3 linked regions of the Homo sapiens genome follow. The protein of the gene in region 1 binds, or shares a complex with, the protein of each later gene. Each region holds a gene or a part of one and is shown in the gene's direction. Other genes may lie near its edges. The genes, in order: EIF4E, EIF4EBP2 and CYFIP1.

Region 1 (5,472 bases):
AATGTATGCTCATAATAATAATTCAGTGATTATTGGCAAATAGTATATGTGCATTTAAAGCATGTGTGTTTACTACGTATAATTTTCATTAAAATTTATATAACATATCTTGGTTTTTGTTCCATGTTTAAAACCCACATATGTAGGGTTTTATTAAACCTTTTTTTGTAAATTTTATTCTTTGCAAAAGTGGCTTTTTTTTTTTTTTTGAGACAGGGTCTCACTGTGTTATTCAGGCAAGAGTGCAGTGGTGCAGTCATGGCTCACTTCAGCCTCAACCTCCTGGGCTCAGGTGATACTCCTACCTCAGCCACCCAATTAGCTGCAACTACAGGTGTGTATGACCACACCTGGCTATTTTCTTGTATTTTTTGTAGAGAAGAGGTTTTGCCATGTTGCCCAGACTGGTCATGAACTCCTGGACTTGATCAAGCCACCTCAGCCTTTCAAAGTGCTGAGATTACAGGCGTGAGCCACCATGCTAAACCAGCTGACATTTTTTTTCTAAGATTTCTTTTTACCTCAATTATATTAGTAATATTTGACACCAGGCGCAGTGGCTCACACCTGTAATCGCAGCACTTTGGGAGGCTGAGGCAGGTGGATCACAAGGTCAGGAGATTGAGACCATCCTGGCCAACACGGTGAAACCCCGTCTCTACTAAAAATACAAAAAAAACAATTAGCTGGGCGTGGTGGCGGGCGCCTGTAGTTCCAGCTACTTGGGAGACTGAGGCAGGAGAATGGCATGAACCCGGGAGGCGGAGCTTGCAGTGAGCCAAGATTGGGCCACTGCGCTCCAGCCTGGGAGACAGAGCGAGACTGTCTCACAAAAAAAAAAAAAAAAAAAAAAATTTGACTTACAATTTTATGTTAAAATTAAGTGCTGGTCAGTCAGTGGTCAAAATGTTTGGTTTGCCCCTTTGTGATTTTTCAAATATTATTAATTTTTCTTTTTAAAATTAATTAATTTTTTGAGACAGAGTCACACTCTGTTGCCCAGGCTGGGGTGCAGTAGCGCGATGTCAGCTCACTGCAACCTCCACCTCTTGGGTTCAAGTGATTCTCTTGCCTCAGCCTCCTGAATAGCTGGGACCACAGGCCTGAACCACTGCAGTAGTTTTTGTAGAGACAGGGTTTCGCCATGTTGGCCAGGCTGGTGTCAAACTCCTAGCCTCAAGTCATCCACCTGCCTCAGCCTCCCAAAGTGCTGGGATTTCAGGCGTGATCCATTGCTCTCAGCCATGTAAATTTTTATGTGAACATAATTTATTTCTGGATCAAAAGGTATAGGGATTTTCTACATTTCATGCTATATGGGGTTCCATAAGAGAAAAGAGTTGATTTGTCATCATATTTTAATGTTTCTTCCAGCATCAAAACCTAATTTTGGAGGATTTACTTTTTTTTTTTTTAAATGAGTTAAATTAAGAATTTTTTTCCTACGGAAGTTTTGTATTTTTGTCAATATTAAATGTTTTTGAGTGTATATTAAGACTTCAGATTTTCAAACGAAGATTTTCTTTTTTAACCTTCCAATTTGCATGACTCAATGGTCTTGCTTTTTGACATTTTTAATAATTAAGTATAATTGAAAGGAATGCATTGCATTATAATGCAAATTTGATAATTAACACTTTAGTTACCATAAAATTACTTTTTAATACCTTATTTTAGGGGGAAGGTAGTAAATCTTCTGGAAGGTATAAAAAAAACCTATCCTAGTATCATGTTGGAGGATTTAACTCCATTAATATCTTTATTCCTTTATTTTTATTTGATTTTTGCTTATTTTTGAATTTTTACTATTTTTTTCCTAAAGATTCTTTTTTCTTTTTTTTTTTTTTTTTTGAGACGGAGTCTTGCTCTGTCACCCAGGCTGGAGTGCAGTGGCACAGTCTCACTCAAGCTCACTGCAAGCTCTGCCTCCCAGGTTCACGCCATTCTCCTGCCTCAGCCTCCCGAGTTGCTGGGACTACAGGCACCTGCCACCACACCCGGCTAATTTTTTGTATTTTTAGTAGAGGCGGGGTTTCACCATGTTAGCCAGGATGGTCTCGATCTCCTGACCTCGTGATCCGCCCGCCTCGGCCTCCCAAAGTGCTGGGATTACAGGCGTGAGCCACCGCGCCCAGCCAAAGATTCAAATTTTTAAGATGACCTATGAAGCTCTCTGTGATCTTCCTCTGAAACCTTGTCAGCTTTATCTCATGTTCACTTTACTTACAAGCCATAGCCACACAGCCTAATTTTTATTTCTCAGCTTTCAAATGTGCTCATTCTCTTAACATTATCCTTTTGACCTCGTGATATTTAAAGGGGAAGACTTCTCTAATGTTGTAGATGAGATTAGAATCTCCTTGTTATACAGTATCACAGCCCTTATGTTTACTCTTTGGCACTCATGACAAGTGCCATTTTATTCTTGCAATAGAGTCATGTCTTACTTGAAAATTAGGTTGTAAAGTTAGTATGTAAAGCAGAAATTACATTCTCCCTCGAAGTGTTTCATTCACTCCCTCGAAGTGTTTAATCTCCCTCAAAGTGTTTAGTTTTTGTTTGTGCAGTCTTATAACAGGTATGGTTAATATAATTTGTGTAGTAATATACAATATTTGCTAGGGTTCAGACGTGAAATGTAACATTTTAGATCAAAGAATGAAACATGTTTGTTTTACAGATTTCTGTTTTTAAGTATGCATGTGATACAGGTCTGTCATGTATTTGTGATTATTTGATTATGTTTTCTCTACTAGACTATAAATGCAGTCAGCTCAGGGACTGTCCTTACTTTGTTCACTGTTGATTTAGTAATAATTATAGTATCATAATAAATAACAATATAATAATATAGTAATGCTCCTGTAATTTAGTAATAACATACCTGACTCGCTCTCAAATATTTTAAAAGTAATTAACCAAGAATATCGCAAAAATGAAGAGTAAATTGTGCTGAAAGGAAAAGGGTGTATAATTAATTTCCTATTTTATTCTCAAGTCTATGTTTTTTAATATAAAGACTAATAACCCTAAATTTTTAAATGTATTTCTTGTGAGTAAAAGTTAATGACTACTTTTTTCTTCTTCTTTTTTTTTTTCTTCTAGGAGGGTATACAAGGAAAGGTTAGGACTTCCTCCAAAGATAGTGATTGGTTATCAGTCCCACGCAGACACAGCTACTAAGAGCGGCTCCACCACTAAAAATAGGTTTGTTGTTTAAGAAGACACCTTCTGAGTATTCTCATAGGAGACTGCGTCAAGCAATCGAGATTTGGGAGCTGAACCAAAGCCTCTTCAAAAAGCAGAGTGGACTGCATTTAAATTTGATTTCCATCTTAATGTTACTCAGATATAAGAGAAGTCTCATTCGCCTTTGTCTTGTACTTCTGTGTTCATTTTTTTTTTTTTTTTTGGCTAGAGTTTCCACTATCCCAATCAAAGAATTACAGTACACATCCCCAGAATCCATAAATGTGTTCCTGGCCCACTCTGTAATAGTTCAGTAGAATTACCATTAATTACATACAGATTTTACCTATCCACAATAGTCAGAAAACAACTTGGCATTTCTATACTTTACAGGAAAAAAAATTCTGTTGTTCCATTTTATGCAGAAGCATATTTTGCTGGTTTGAAAGATTATGATGCATACAGTTTTCTAGCAATTTTCTTTGTTTCTTTTTACAGCATTGTCTTTGCTGTACTCTTGCTGATGGCTGCTAGATTTTAATTTATTTGTTTCCCTACTTGATAATATTAGTGATTCTGATTTCAGTTTTTCATTTGTTTTGCTTTTGTTTTTTTCCTCATGTAACATTGGTGAAGGATCCAGGAATATGACACAAAGGTGGAATAAACATTAATTTTGTGCATTCTTTGGTAATTTTTTTTGTTTTTTGTAACTACAAAGCTTTGCTACAAATTTATGCATTTCATTCAAATCAGTGATCTATGTTTGTGTGATTTCCTAAACATAATTGTGGATTATAAAAAATGTAACATCATAATTACATTCCTAACTAGAATTAGTATGTCTGTTTTTGTATCTTTATGCTGTATTTTAACACTTTGTATTACTTAGGTTATTTTGCTTTGGTTAAAAATGGCTCAAGTAGAAAAGCAGTCCCATTCATATTAAGACAGTGTACAAAACTGTAAATAAAATGTGTACAGTGAATTGTCTTTTAGACAACTAGATTTGTCCTTTTATTTCTCCATCTTTATAGAAGGAATTTGTACTTCTTATTGCAAGGCAGTCTCTATATTATGTCTTCTTTTGTGGTGTCTTCCATGTGAACAGCATAAGTTTGGAGCACTAGTTTGATTATTATGTTTATTACAATTTTTAATAAATTGAATAGGTAGTATCATATATATGGAATTAAATTGATGTGGCTATCTTTGTTTTTTTATAAAGTAAGGCACAGTCATTCAGTCTTAGGTAAATAATGTACTCTCTTAATATGTTAATACTCATGAGAATTGGGATCTGATGCATCACCATTTGATTGGTAGCAACAGTGGTTGTAAAACTTGGTTGCTGAATTGAGTTGTTTCTATGTTAAGTGTCAAAATGATAGTGTAGGGAAAGTACAGGTGGTGGGGACATATGCATTAAGAATCTTGTTAGTGTTGCAATCTAAATAGAATGGAATAAACAGGTGTTAAGACATATTTATAGTGGTAAATTGTTGTAGTATGGTATTCTGTAAACTTGAAAACTTGATCTACTCTTTGTAGGTATCATTTGAAAGCAAACTTGAAAATGTTTTGTACATAGTACATACTTGTATAGTCCTGTGAGATGAAGTATGGCTATCAGACCAAAGGATAAGCCAAACTGTAGGTAGCAGAATGGAAATTATTATTTTGAGAGGAAAATTTGTCTTTGAATGGTGATTATGACTTAATCATTTTAAAACTGATAAACTTGACAAAAACCCTGTATGAAATAAACATGAAATTAATAGCACTGATTTCATTGTAAAATTTTAAAGCAGTTTAAAGGGTACCACAGGTTATCACAGTACTCTCAATGCCACAAACACCTCTTGTTCAGTATTCTAGAAATACTGAATCAGAATTCTGTGTTTATTATAATCTCAGCATACTGTACATAATATCTGCTAGTTAAACTTGGGTAATTGGTTAAGGTGACTTACTGTCTATGTCAATATGTATAGTTTTGAGTACTTCAAGAGTTTACTTAAAAGTGATGATGTTACTGGTATGTTGGCAGTGGGTGGGACTGAAGTAGTGTATCTATTATAAATTGATCTATTTTCTTAATTCTAAGATGAAGTCCAATTTTAAGCATCAGCTTTTAGGTGCAAAGGAGGAATTAACACATTAAATGTATACAGTTCTAAATTTTTGAAATAACTGATGTGTAGCATTTGATTATTGGTATTACCATTTTAGAATCATGATGTTATTTTAAACCTTTTTCCTGGGGACAAGAAAGGATAATAA
Region 2 (7,114 bases), on another chromosome or scaffold:
TGCGCCTGGCCGACCTTGTTTCTTATATGAGTTTCTTTTATATGGTGTGAGGAAAAGCGGTATGGTTTATTTCCTCTATTTTCCAGAACTGCGTTTAAGGTTTACCTAAATTACCCCTCCTCCAACACATTCTTTTTTTCTTTATCACTGTAGAAGCAGAATGGTGCGGTAGGAGTGGCCAGCTCCTGAAATATTCCTCAGGGACTGCACTTGGTGACCCCTAGATGGGGGCCAGCATTCCGCTTTGTCATATTTCAGATGAGTTTTTTAATGGACAAAGTGTTAGTTTGGAGCAGGGCCAAAGTCCAAAGCCTCCAGAAGAATGTGCTCCCCTGAGAGATGGCAAAGAGCTCCCCAAGAGCTGCTGTTTAGTCATCCTGAAGACAAAGGGACAATGGGGATGTTTTCACTTGTGTCCTTTTCCCCAAAACTTCTCCCCATGGGTGATGGGACTGCCATTCTTATTTTTCAGATTAAGACCAGCCAAAGCAAAGCAGAGTAATTGTTTTAAGGCAGCAGAGAGTGGGACAATTTGAATTACTTTTTGTCTCTCATTTAGAGGGAATGACAGTTAAAACTGTTATGCTTCTTTGTGTACGTGCTAAACTCTTCATTTTATTGGTCCTAACTAGGGGATGATGCTCAGTTCGAGATGGACATCTGACTCTCCTGCAAGGATTAGAAGAAAAGCAGCAACACTGATACTTGTGTGCACCTGATTTGGCCAATAGGATCAACAGTGAAAAGACAGAAGAGGCAATACCAGCAGTCCCCATTACAGTCTCCACCTCCCCGTCTTCCTCTGGGTGCCAAATGATGGGAAGATGAGCTTCATCTGACCATTTCTTCTCCCTGTCTCCTGTTCCCCTTCCCAGTTAAACAGGTTAGATTGAAGGCCCTTGCTGTATTTCTGTAGAGCTAAGCAGCCCTTAGAGGAAAACAGTTCAACTCTGACTTTCCTAGTTGTTTTTTTATTGAGAGCCACCCTCATACCCTGTAATTTTGTCCCAAATCAAATATCAACCTACCAACAACTGCCTGGCTGGGAAGTCTGGGGAAGGGATACAGAGCTTGGTGGGCCTAACACCATTCATATTCCTTACCCTCTGTCTCTCCTCCCTGTATCCCACCTATGGTTCAGTGTTGCAAGAGTCTGGGCTTGGGGTCTTTAAAACCAGCAGGGGGAAATGATAAAAAGAGAGCTGCTTTCCCTTTTACCTTGAGGTATTCGTCCCTCGGGACAGAGCACAGCTTGTGCAACTCTGGTAGCGTTACCCTGTGACACTGTTTTGAGGTCCACTTCCTTTCTTTCCTCTGGGAGGAATGTCTTCTGTCTTTGGTATTATAGTTCATCTTCCCATTCTTTTACTTAGTGCATTTGTGCAGATATTTTTAACTCTGTACATCAGAAGAGAGCCCTTGGTAACCAGTTTTGCTCTTCTTCTGCCACTCCTCCCTGCTTGCATCTCGTTGCTGGCAGAGTCCTCTTGTACTTCAAGAAAGCAAAGTGATTTTGTCTGCTCCTAGAGCAGGTCCATACCAAGTAATAGAGGCACTTTAGCTTCCACTTGGTGGGTAAGGCCTGATCATAGTATTCTGTCAGATAATGCCTAAGAATGACCGCTGAAGAACGTTGACCCATTTGAGTACCCGGTCTCAGTCGTCATTTTTAAGTCCAGTGAGCATTGTGGTAGTTGTTCTTAGATTGCAGTTTCTTATGTTTTGAGTTTGAAGTTGATTTTCAGAATGTTCTTAGAAAAGAACTGCATTTTTTTCCTTTGTGGATCTGCTTTGTTTGGCTGCTGGGATAGATAAGCATGGGCTTAAAAAATGTGTTCCTCCCAGTTTTCTTGCCTTTCCTGTTGTACTCTGAATTTCTCTCCCTACCTCCCTCACTTTCTTCCTCTCTCCTTCCTTTCCTTCCTTTTTCTCTACCAGGCCATTTTTCAAATTTACATCAAAGATACCTGAAGTGTTGGTATCTGAGAATATCTGTCACTCCTCTTATCTGAGAAGTGACCTTTTATTTTTAAGATGACTACAGACCTATTTTTAGATATGTTTTCAGTACAATTTTGAACAGCAACTTTTTAATTAAACATCTTCCAGTGTTAGGAAGTTGAGAAACGTTCATAGGCAAGTCTGCTGTTCTATGTCACCATCTTTTGTCTCCCCTAGTCCCCCAGGAGCTCTTTCCTTTCCCCTCTAGTTTTGGGTGTGCATGTTTGGAGTTTGTAGTGGGTGGTTTGTAAAACTGGACCATTCTGCCTTGCTATGGGTTGTTCAAGAAAGCCTCATTCTTTTCTGTGACCCTTTCGCTTTTGCATTCACCCTCCTTCCCACCTACCTGTCCTGGGGCTGTTGAGCAGCATAATAATCCCGGGAGAATGATTCCCCTCATAGAAAGACAAAAGCATCCATCCCCTCATAGTTAAGTAGCCACTGGTGTCCTGGGAATTTCTGGTTGGATTTGGTGCCCTGAACTTTTTTATTAAGAAATCAGATCCCAGGGTGAGAGTAACAGGCCATTTGGCCAAGAAAGAAACCTGTTTGTTTTTCTTTTGAACTATGAAAAGACCCTGTTTGTGAATATATTTTAGAAAGAGAGGAAGGATGTCTGCAGAACTTTGTTCTGTTTTCTGCCACAAAAATGTGAATAGTTCAGAGTGAAAACCTTTTGTGATGGTTGATGTCTCAGGAATAAGCTGGATCTCCAATGTTTTGGGGATGCTTTGAGTCTCAAAAAAAATTGATAATCAGAAAAGTAATTTTTGTTTGTTTGTTTAATGTATCCCTGTTCTGTTTTTAATTAAACTCCAAGTCTCATTTTACATATTCTTGGAAAAACCTAAGTTGCTCTGTAATTTACATAAGAAGCATGCTCAGGACCTCTTTGTACCCCGGGGAGCCTGATTCTTTGGGAATGAAGCTTTTCATTCTTCATACACTGGCCTTGGCATCCTGTGGAATTTGACCCAACTAGCAGCTAGTCAGTCTGTCAGTGAGCAGAAGAGTGAACTCTTCTTGATCTTTATTGCTATGTGTGAAAACTTGGCTTCCTCACTGAACGGTGAGGAATGGATTTAAAGCATGAGCTTTAGTAGTATCAAGATGCCATTTTCCTTTTTCTTGCTGTCTTGGGGAGCTTCTGCATGTGACCCCCTAATCAGAAGGCATGTTTTTAGTATTTCTTGGGAGTGTCAGCTGTATAATGCAGCAGCTGTTCAATCCCTTACCCTTCTCTGCAAGGACTTCCTTACAGCTTGGTGCAGTTCTTTCCCAGAGGCCACCACTACTAGACAGTCTTTCTTTTATCTTATGGAGATAAATTGGCATTTAAAAAATAATTTCACAAGGCATGAGATAAACTTTCAATAGATGATACCTTTGTGTCATGCCTCATGGAATTATTTTTAGAACAAGCCAGAGTCCATTGAGTGGTTTACCTCTGCATGTTTGGAGGGAACCTCACAGATGAAACCCTTAATGAATAATGTGTCCGGGGTTTTTTAGAGAGAAGGAGCACTCTTAAGTTACCACTTTGAGACAGCTCTTAACATCTTAGTGACCATTTGTAGTTTTCTTTTTATGAGGAACCCATGCTTCTATACTTGGGCGGACAATCGAGCTTAATGAGAAGTGACTTCCCTTCAAATTCCAACAGCAGACATGCATTGTCATGATTCTGTCTTCTTTTTAGTGTGGTTTATTGAGTTCAGCAGTTCTCATATTCTGTTTAAATAGGTACAGCATTTTCAAGGGCACAGATACAGAGAAGCTGGCTTTCTAGGTATTGGGCTTCCAAGCCAAGAGTTTTGTCCTTCCACCTGTATTAGTTATCTATTGCTGTGTAAAAAATTACCCTAAATTTAGTATGTTAAAATAGTAAACATTATCTGTCAGTTTCTGTGGGTTAAGAATTTGGGAGTAGTTTAACATGATGGTTCTGGCCCATGGTATCATGAAGTTACAGTCAAGATTGAACAGGGGCTGCAGTCAGCTGGAGCTGGAGAAACCACTTCCAAGTTCTCTCTTTGTGGCCGTTGGCAGGATGCCTCAGTTTCTTCCCATGTGGGTCTCTGCGTAGGGCAGCATGAGTGTCCTCACACCATGACACCTGGCTTCTCCCTGAGCAGCTGATTCCAGAGATCATGGGGCAGGGCCAGGAGAAAGCTGCAGTGCCTTTTAAGACATAGTCTTGGAAAGGACACACCGTCACTTCTTATCCTAGTTGTTAGAAGCAAGCCACTAAGTTCAGCCTGCACTCAAGGAGAGAGGAATTACACATACCTCTACCCCAATGGAGCAGTAGCAAAGAATTTATGGACATATCTTAAAAGCACCACACCCCAACTGGGGATGAAAGTAGGTCAACAGGGAGGTAGGTTTAATCTAGATAAGCTGAAAGATAGATTGCTATCAAAAACAGTTCTCCAAGATGTGCATAGCCAAACTGGGATAGAAGGCAAACTCCCCAAAGCTACCTGCTGGTTTTGAGAGGGGTGGTAAGACATGGCAATTCCCAGGAGTAGTAGAAAATAATATGCCTGACTACCAACAGCTCAAGTATGCTTATTTGCACATCCTAGACTTGGTGTCTGTAAGACTCAGTTACCACTTTTATTTTCCTGTAGCTAGGAGTTAGCAAAAGGAACTGGGGCCTTCCAGCCGAGCCACTAAACCTGTCTTATTTGGAATGGGGATTGTCCAGCAAAGGGAGCAAACATGAATTAGATGTTAAGCTATTGAGCTGAAGAAAAGAAAGCAGTTCACATTTAGGTGAAATAGATGATGTTATCAGGAAGCCAGGTTCCCACCAGAGTCGGTGCTTGGTACCTGGTCTCTCCAGTCTCAACAGACTCAGGTCAGGTCTCTCACCCAGGAAGCAACCACTCAATAAAATAGAGAACATCTGAGAATTACAAATGTCTATGCTTGATTGCTCCTCTAAATCCAGTGCATAGGTTAACCCTGCATGCCCATTTCTTCCTGGGCTTCTTGATGGCAATGTGTTCTTAAATAACTGGTCTTGTGTTCATGCTAAAGACAAACTTACATGAAGTTTTTCAGTTTAAGACATTCTAGTGAATGGCTGCTATGTGTTTCTGGCACTCATTCCTAACCAAGTCTTTAGAGATTTCAGATGACCTTAAAGATGCAATATCTTTTTCTTTCTTTCTTTCTTTCTTTTTTTCTGAGACAAGAGTTGCGCCCTGTCGCCCAGGCTGGGGTGCTGGAGTGCAGTGGTGCGATCTCAGCTCACTGCAGCCTCTGCTTCCCAGGTTCAAGTGTTTCTCCTGCCTCAGCCTTCCGAGTAGCTGGGATTACAGGCATGTACCACTATGCCTGGCTAATTTTTATTTCTATATTTTTAGTAGAGATGGGGTTTCATCATGTTTGCCAGGCTGGTCTCGAACTCCTGGCCTCAAGTGATCCGCCCACCTCAGCCTCCCAAAGTGCTGGGATTACAGGCGCGAGCCACCGCGCCTGGCCAAAGATGCAAATTCTTGTTTGGATTTATGCTCTGCCTCTTCCCAGCATTTTCTTATCTGTAGCCCTGCTTGCTTGAGAGTATACTTGGATAAGAAGTATTGCTGTTGAGGGAGCTATAAGAAAAGGATTCTTCTTCCAGAAGTAAAGAACTCATCTTTAGAGTACCTTTAAATGAATTTTGTTTTTCTTTCTTATTTTGAGGTGGATTGGTCTTCTCTTTTTTTGGGTTTCCAGCTCACTGGGACTCTCAGACCTTACCTTTCCAGCTCAAACACCATTAGTTAAATTCCTTCATTCTCATTAGAATGCAGCCTGCTGAGTATGTGGGTTTCACTGCCGGAGTCCATCATTTAGCCAGTATACATAGAGGAACTGCTTCGAATCAAGGCAACTGGTGAAGGGCTTAGCATGTTGGCAGCAATATCCCAGAGATTGAATCTGTTTGCATTTTCCTCATCTAGGATAACAGCTGCTTGAAGCCAGGGCTCTTAGCCCTTTGCATTCCCCTTGAGCGAGGAAGCCACACTGCCTTTCTGTGTCTGGTTCAGAGCTCTTCCTTCTTGGCATGTTTTCTGGACTACATGCACATGGGCAGCTATAGATTAATCTGCAAAACCTAGTCACTTACCTACCCATAATATCTGGGAAGGTGTGGTATTTGTTTTAAAGAAACATTGTTTCTTTGGGAGGGCAGTTTCTGTCTGGACTTTGAGGTGGACTTAGTTATCCCTACAGTTCTTTAACTCTCAGCTTTTAATAAAAGATGAAATCAGATATTGATGCAGTTGGGTCACAATTCTTTAGAATGCTTCTACCCCAGGGCCGCTTCCTGTTCCTAGTCATGGTTTTCCAGTTTAGTAGTGGAGTTTCTTGAGGCTAACTTACAGAAATTTCTAACTGAAAACTTTAAGAGTTATTGATACTTGTTTTTTCAGTCAGTCACTTACATCACCTAGCCTACTCTCTGGAATTTAAATTTATTTCTCTAGGCTGGTCCTGGAAGTTGATAACCTTTTGGCAAAGCTTAGATTTAGGAGAAGGCTTGAGTCCCTGTTCAGCGGGTCTGTGGATTCTCTTTGCTTATGGCTCTCTGCCTGCAGCCCTGGCAGACCATACTGTATGTCATGGATACCCAGTGGAAATATTACTGAGATGAAACACATTTCCAAGGGTATTTAAACTCTCACTCTGCCACCTTTCTAAGGGTGGGAGGCTGGCAGAGATGCTGCAATGCTTGATAATCATTTGGCCACACTGAAATTTCCAAAGGGAGCTCTTGCCGGTGCTTAAAACCAAAACTCCTGGACACTTAGAAAATTCCATGAATCTAGCACAAAATATCCATTCTTGCCCAAGTGTATCCCCTTTCTCTCCAGCTTAATCTTTTTTTTTTTTTTTTTTTTAAAGCCCAGGCCAAGGGTACTTTTAACTGGAAACTGGGGAGGAGGGAAGAACACTAGCAGGGAGCTAAGAGGCAGGTTGCTGGGTAAGCCATCCTGCTCCTACCTGGTGCCTGTATCTACATTGCTGAGTGCTGTGCGCCAGTGCCTTTCCTTCATCTGCAGATGGAGCCCATCTCTTTCCACCTGGGTGAGGAGACCCTCTGCTACTCCAGGGGTAA
Region 3 (7,114 bases), on another chromosome or scaffold:
TATTTATTTATTTATTTATTTATTTATTTTTGAGACAGAGTCTCGCTGTGTCACCTAGGCTGGAGTGTAGTGACGCCATCTCAGCTCACTGCAACCTCCACCTCCCAGTTTCAAGCAGTTCTCCTGCCTTAGCCTCCCAAGTAGCTGGGACTACAGGTGTGCACCACCACACCAGGCTAATTTTTGTATTTTTAGTAGAGACGGGGTTTCACCATATTGGCCAGGCTGGTCTCGAACTCCTGACCTTGTGATCCGCCTGCCTCGGCCTCCCAAAATACTGGGATTACAGGCATGAGCCACTGCGCCCGGGTGCTTTTAGTTATTTTTCTTCGATTTTGGGGGGGTTTATTTTGCTGTTTTCTATAAATTAGTGATGAATGTTTGATAAGTATTATGATTTTTATCCTTTTTAGTTTTCTAATGCGTGCATCTAAAGCTCTCAGTTTGCTGTTAACTTGCCTTTTCCTTCTTCCTGTAAGTGTGAATATGTAGGATTGTTATGTTCACTTAAATGGGTTTTTCCTCGTTTGGTTTTTTAAATAGAACTTTTCTTTTTTGTTGATTGGAAAAACAATATAAAATCATCAGTTTTCCAAAGTAAGCATGCTGAAAACACAAGCATGGCATTAGGAAGGCACAGTGCCTGCGGCGCCATCACAGAGATGGCGCTGAGCAGCTGGGTGCGTTTTCTTCCAGACTTTTTCCTTTCTAAAATTTTCATTATTTTAATTGCATATAGACCATGAGTCTTACATGAAAGCAGTCTATTTGGAAATTCTTTACGTTATAGAAGGATGAATTAAAAGCAGACTGTCAACTTTTCCACCTGAAAATTTCATGAAAAAGAAAAGCACCAAAATCATATAAGCCATGTTTCAAGTACTTGTCAGACACGTCTTCATTTACCCATGAATCAGGCTGTTTATAAAGCCATAATGAGGAACTCAAAAGGTGTGAATAAAACCAGAAAGTGATAGAGGGAGACTGTGTGAAGCCTTGGGGAAACACATTTGTGTTCTTGCTAAGTGAACTTCAAACCAACAGATTTAATAAAAGTAGGAAGATGCCTAGCCAAGCATGGTAGTGCATGCTTATAGAACTAGTTACCCAGGAGGCTGAGGCAGGAGGATCGATTGACCCTGGGAGTTCAAGGCTGCAGTGAGCTATGATCATGCCACTGCACTCCAGTCTGGGCAACAGAGTGAGACCCTGTCTCAAAAAAAAAAAAAAAAAAAAAAAGCTGCCTTAATTTTGAATCTGTCAAATACTTAATTTCAAAAGGTTTTTTTTGTTTGTTTGTTTTTTGTTTTTTTTTATTACTGTGGACTGAAGACCATTTTCAGATGTTGAAGTAGGGTTTTTGTTTTGTTTTGTTTTGAGACAGGGTCTCGCTCTGTCACCCAGGCTGGAGAGCAGTGGCATAGTCATGGCTCACTGCAGCCTCGAACTCCTAGGCTCAAGTGATCCTCCTGGCTTAGCCTCCCGAGTAGCTGGGACTATAGGCTCATGCCACCACACCTGGCTAATTTTTAAATTTTTTGTAGAGATGGGGTCTGGCCATTTTGTTCGGGCTGATCTTGAACTCTGGTCTCAAGTGATTCTCCCGCCTCAGCCTCCCAAAGTGCCAGGATTATGGGTGTGAGCCACTGTGCCTGGCCAAAGAAGGGTTGTTAAGATTTTCCCAAATGTATTAGTCTTAGGTACAGCGTTCTAGTTAAAAGATAAAAAGAAGTGAATTATGTTTCACTGGTGCTATTAAATGTTCCACTTTGGTGTCTTATATGTCAGACATCCACACGGCAGGGTGGACTTGGGGTAAGTGTGTCTTGCTCTGCCTCACTTGCTGCTTTCAGAGAGATTTCTAGGCCTCACATAGCTATCATGAAGTTGGCTGTAGAAATATTTATAAACGGCAAAAGCCGTAAGAAAGCTCATGCAATTGTAAAGGTCATACTTGGTTTGTGACCTTCAATTGTTTATTCAGAAAGTAATAAAGCACACTGTCATGACAAAATTACTGTCTGGAAACAGGGAAATAATGAGCCCTGGCACCATTTTTCTGTCCCAGGAATTCCTTTGGAAGCTCTTTGTCATGTAATTATGTTCCATCAGAGTCTTCCAGGCTTTTTCTGTGAATGGTAGTTCACTGCGCCTTTGTTGTGAACAATATGGGATTTGGACTACAACCTCTTGTAACTTCTTTTTCTAGTAATATCATGCCTGCTTTCCTGAGTCTTTTTCTTCTTTCCTATTTGAATTCCATCACAGGAGGGTGTGCTGGGGTGGATGCATGTGTGTTTCGAGTCAGATGCATCCCTGTCCTCCAGGTGCTCATGGTCTGATGGGGAGTCAGATGCGGGCACAGTTCCATTGACTATGGCTTTGGAGAAGACGTTTTGGGGCAGGGCAGCTGCAGGGCACGAACGCGGGAGGGCGTAAGGTGCTGTGGGCGAGGAGGAGCAGCCCCCGGCATGTGCCAGGCAGAGGAGGCTTGGTGCCATCCCTAAGAAGGGCCGTCCCTGTTGCTGTGTCCCCCGCAGGTGATCGCCATGATCAAAGGCCTGCAGGTGCTGATGGGCAGGATGGAGAGCGTGTTCAACCACGCCATCCGGCACACCGTCTATGCCGCACTGCAGGACTTCTCCCAGGTGACCCTTAGGGAGCCGCTGCGGCAGGCCATCAAGAAGAAGAAGAACGTCATCCAGAGGTCAGCCTTCCCCACGCCCTGTGCCCGCTGTGCCCACACGTCCTCGGATGAACTTGGATTCAAACAACAGGAGCGTTAAATTCTCAAAAATGATTTCAATATATTTATCTTCAACCTTCAGATGCCCTCTTGGTGAATTACCTCTAAAAGTAATGCATGGGTCCAATTATTAACCCAAACAATGGACAGTAAGTCAGCTGCCGAGTGTCTAGGGAGTCTGAGGACCCCGGGACAAGGTGCATTTATCCCAGGCTCGCGGTGCCTGTGGTTCATGCATGGTGCCTTATGGGGGTCTCTGCACGGTGGAGCCCTGTTGGTGATGAGGCTGTGTTCCAAACCAGTCGAGAGACATGGCCAGGCTCTGGTCATGTGGGTGACTTCACATTCCTGTTGGTTACTGGGGACAGCCAGCTGCGGGCAGGCGGGGCCCAGCTCTGCTCCGTGCGGAGGCTGTGTTCTGCCCTCTCCCTGCCCACAGCATGACTCAGAGCCACCTCACTGCTGCCCTGGGCTAACAGATGCGAACTGGAGCTCAGGGCAGTCTTCTGGGGGTAGTAATACTCTCCAGAAGGCAGACTCCTTTTTAACTTTCCTGTTGAGCTGGTCCATTACCACATCCCTCCATGGCCCCCAGAGTAATTTGTATTTTCATGGGGGCTGTTCTGAGAGCCTTGTAGTTGGGTGAGGAGATGGTGTGATTGTGAGGCTGGAGGTCTCGGCCTCTGGGCCTTGCTGATCACTTGGTGGGGTGTTCAGTGTCCTGCAGGCCATCAGGAAGACCGTGTGTGACTGGGAGACGGGGCATGAGCCCTTCAATGACCCAGCCTTGCGGGGCGAGAAGGACCCCAAGAGCGGCTTCGACATAAAAGTACCACGCCGCGCCGTGGGACCCTCCAGCACTCAGGTTCTCGTCCCTTGAGCCCCGCCTGCACCCTCTCCCTGGGGGGACCCACCCTGAGCTGTGAGCGGGTGGGGCTGGTGAGGCCCGGGTTAAATGAGGTCCTCGCTGCCTGCTCAGGCAGAGAAAGTGGCGCCTGTGGTTTCTGCTGCTCCTCTGTTTCCCACCCAAGTGAGTTGGGAGCGTGAGGAGACGTGCCTTGATTGTCAGATGTGTCATGTGCACTAAAAAGGAGTCTGACTCCATTTCAACTCCCATCCCAAAAATGTGGGCACAAGTCCACGTGTCTGTATTCATTCTGTGTTTCTTGATGGGTGTTTGAATGTCTGTATAATTTTTACGTTGGGTCTGCAAATGACTGTAGATGGGGCGTGGGAAACTGTGAGGTGCTGCTTGCGTGTGTCATGGTCCTAAGCTGCCCACTGTCCTCTCTCCTGGTGTGTTCAGGCCTCCCCGAGGTGCTTCTCACGACTTTCACACCCGGTTTAATCCACACCGCTGCGTCTGTCCTCCGTCCTGGGGCTGGTCTTCTCCCTCATCTCTGCCGGAGGCTTTTAATCTCTTCTGCCACTCTTCTGGAAAGTCACCAGCAATGCACGCTGCTGGCTCTGCAGGAGGGTCAGGGGGACGGCCCTCGGCCTGTGCGTGGTGCCAGCCACCCTCCCTGCCTCCCTCTGCGTGCGTCCCGTGTCCCTGCCTGGGGTGTGTGTGTCGAGTGACTAACGTCTCTCTCCTGCCTCTCCCTCCTGTCTGTCCGTGTCTAGCTCTACCTGGTGCGCACCATGGCCGAGTCCTTGGGCTCTGCCGAGCTGCTCAGGCAGCTCAAGTCTCTGGGCATGGAGAGGCTCTTGCATGCGGTTAACACGTTTCTGAGGCAGTCGTGCACCTACCTACCCCTTTTAACCTTTGGTGGTAAGACATCATTTGTTTCTCTTGACGTTTATGGCACGGAGGCGAACTGCTCCGCTACAAGTTGTTCTTTCCCCAAAGCAGCAGCAACGTGGCCGCGTAGACAGGCACCCGGACCCCTCGGGGAGCTGGTGCGGGGCCCTCCCGACCAGGGCGTAGCGGAGCAGTCCTTCTCTCATGGGCTTTTTGAGTTTGGCATAACTAATGTACCATGTATATTTTCTCCCCCACAAATGTTTCCTTGGATAATCCAGCTTTACATGGTGAGAACCATGCTAGAGTCCCTCATTGCAGACAAAAGTGGTTCCAAGAAAACCTTGAGAAGTAGCCTTGAGGGGCCCACCATATTGGACATAGAAAAATTTCATCGAGAGTCATTCTTCTACACTCACTTGATAAATTTCAGTGGTAAGAGATACTGCTGAGCAGCATCCGGCCTGGCATGTCCTAACACCACTAACACCGTCTAGAATGCTTCCGCCCGCCTGACCACCCCCTACCCCGTCCCTTGGTGCACCCAGACGGTGACTCGTCCTGCCCTCTGTGGCGGTGGCTGTACGTCCCTGGCCTGAGCTCGCTCCACAGGGCGTGGTCCCTACAAGGGTATAAACTGAGGAGCCCGGGCTGGCCCTGAGACATGAACAGAAAATCTTTTCAACCCATGCGGGGTTGGAAACAGGCGAATGTAATCTGGTGCCTGAGTTGAGACACAGGCATTGATAAATACTAGAAATGGCCCTTGCAGACCATGACGTGGGGGGAAGGTGGCGGGTGCCCTGTGCCAGGCAAGCCCATCCTGGGTGACACCCGGCCACCTTGACCGGCCACCGGTGGGTGCGCTCTCTGCCCTCCGTGTGTCTGTCCCGTGTTCTCATCAAGTCCTCCGTTGTCCACCTCTTGCTCAGAACAGGATCCCTGCTGTCTTGGCTGGGGTGCTGCGAGGTATTGGAGGAAATAGTACCACTTTTGCTGTTAACTCCATGAAAGGATGGAGTTCGAGTGTGGGCTCTTTTAATCTGTCTCATTTTTGCGTTAGACAGACCTCCCTGAGTGTGCCTCTAATGCTGCAGCCTGGACATTGGTTTTTATCCTAAGTGAAAGTGAAGAAGTCCTGTTTTTTTGTTTTGTTTTTTGTTGAGACGAAGTCTTGCTCTGTCACCCAGGCTAGAGTACAGTGGGGCGATCTCAGCTCACTGCAAGCTCCGCCTCCCAGGTTCAAGAGATTCTCCTCCCTCAGCCTCCCAAGTAGCTGGGATTATAGGTGCTCACCACTGCGCCTGGCTAATTTTTGTATTTTTAGTAGAGATGGGGTTTTACCATGTTGGCCAGGCTGGTCTCAAACTCCTGACCTTGTGATCCACCCGCCTCGGCCTCCCAAAGTGCTAGGATTACAGGCGTGAGCCACTGTGCCCAGCCAGAAGTCCTGTTTTTATGTCTCCTTTTGAGAAGAACATTTTTAGGTAAGACACAGTGGCTCATACCTGTTAATCCTAACACTTTGGGAAGCCAAGGCAGGAGAATCACTTGAATTCGGGAGTTTGAGACCAGCCTGGGCAACATGGCGAGACCCCCATCTCTATAAAAAATACAAAATCAGTTGGTGGCACGTGCCTGTGTTCTCAGCTACTTGGGAGGCTGAGGCAGGAGGATCGCTTGAGCCCAGGAGTTGAAGGCTGCAGTAAGCTATGATCGCGCCACTCACCTCCAGCCTGGGTGACAGAGTGAGATAGACTCTGTCTCAAAAAAAAAAAAAAGACACTTTCCCCCTGGATCCCACTGAAGGGCTCACAGGGTTGATGAGGTGGCTTTACCTGCAGCTATGCCCAGCTGGTCCTGTCCCTAGTGCAAGGCCCCGGTGACCCCTCCCCACTCATGTCCATGCTGCATGGCTTGGGGCTGAGCGAGGAGGAGCAGGCACCCAGCACACAGCCCTTGTGTCATCTCTGCTAAAGGTTTTTTTTTGCTTGCGGGAGATAACATGGAGTTGTTTGAACCCTCCCAGAAACGCTGCAGCAGTGCTGTGACCTTTCGCAGCTGTGGTTCCGAGAGTTCTTCCTGGAGCTGACCATGGGCAGGAGGATCCAGTTCCCCATTGAGATGTCGATGCCCTGGATCCTGACGGACCACATCCTGGAGACCAAGGAGGCATCGATGATGGAGTGCGTGTCCTGCGGGCCTGTCTCCAGCCTTTGTGTGTGGTGACCGGGGGTCCTCAGAGGAGGTGGCGGAGAGGCCGGGACTGTTTTTAGTATTGTATTTGAAATCAAGTTTCTGGGCCTGGGCAAAATAGCAAGACCCCAGTCTCTACAAAAATGAGAAAACTTAGCCTGGTGTGGTGGCTGATGCGGGAGGATTGCTTTACCACAGAAATTTGTGGCTGCATTGAGCTATGGATTGCACCACTGCATTCCAGCCTGGCCACGTAGCAAGACCCTGTCTCCAAATAAAAAAAAAAAAAAGAGAAATCATGTTTCCTGGGGTAAAGCTTTAGAGATTAATACAAGTAACTAACCAGTTTCTTGGTGTCAGACTGGAATTGAGAGCTCAGGCACTAGAACCAGTCACGTTCCTACTTTGCATGGGTGCTGGCTGGGACCCGG

Evidence for each region.
Region 2: the proteins of EIF4E (region 1) and EIF4EBP2 are in contact, whole or in part, in a crystal structure (PDB 3AM7), measured with the Homo sapiens proteins. Residues at the interface, in NP_001959.1 of Homo sapiens: His37, Pro38, Leu39, Gln40, Val69, Trp73, Tyr76, Asn77, Leu131, Glu132, Leu135, Ile138, Gly139, Glu140, Ser141, Asp143, Asp144, Ser146, Asp147, Arg186 (codon at 3,122); in NP_004087.1 of Homo sapiens: Pro47, Thr50, Arg51, Ile52, Ile53, Tyr54, Arg56, Phe58, Leu59, Leu60, Arg62, Arg63, Asn64.
Region 3: EIF4E (region 1) and CYFIP1 share a complex: the UniProt entries of both Homo sapiens proteins name them as parts of the CYFIP1-EIF4E-FMR1 complex.

The regions. Positions count from the first base shown.
Region 1 is NC_000004.12:98,878,776-98,884,247, reverse strand, and holds the end of EIF4E (eukaryotic translation initiation factor 4E), read left to right. Parts: intron 1-3,105; coding exon 3,106-3,220; 3' UTR 3,221-4,972; downstream 4,973-5,472. UniProt on the Homo sapiens protein: Acts in the cytoplasm to initiate and regulate protein synthesis and is required in the nucleus for export of a subset of mRNAs from the nucleus to the cytoplasm which promotes processes such as RNA capping, processing and splicing.
Region 2 is NC_000010.11:70,421,084-70,428,197, forward strand, and holds part of EIF4EBP2 (eukaryotic translation initiation factor 4E-binding protein 2), read left to right. Parts: intron 1-632; coding exon 633-664; 3' UTR 665-7,114.
Region 3 is NC_000015.10:22,914,285-22,921,398, reverse strand, and holds part of CYFIP1 (cytoplasmic FMR1-interacting protein 1), read left to right. Parts: intron 1-2,540; coding exon 2,541-2,707; intron 2,708-3,463; coding exon 3,464-3,611; intron 3,612-4,085; exon of another isoform or gene 4,086-4,387; coding exon of another isoform or gene 4,388-4,768; coding exon 4,769-4,922; intron 4,923-6,516; coding exon 6,517-6,673; intron 6,674-7,114. UniProt on the Homo sapiens protein: Component of the CYFIP1-EIF4E-FMR1 complex which binds to the mRNA cap and mediates translational repression. In the CYFIP1-EIF4E-FMR1 complex this subunit is an adapter between EIF4E and FMR1.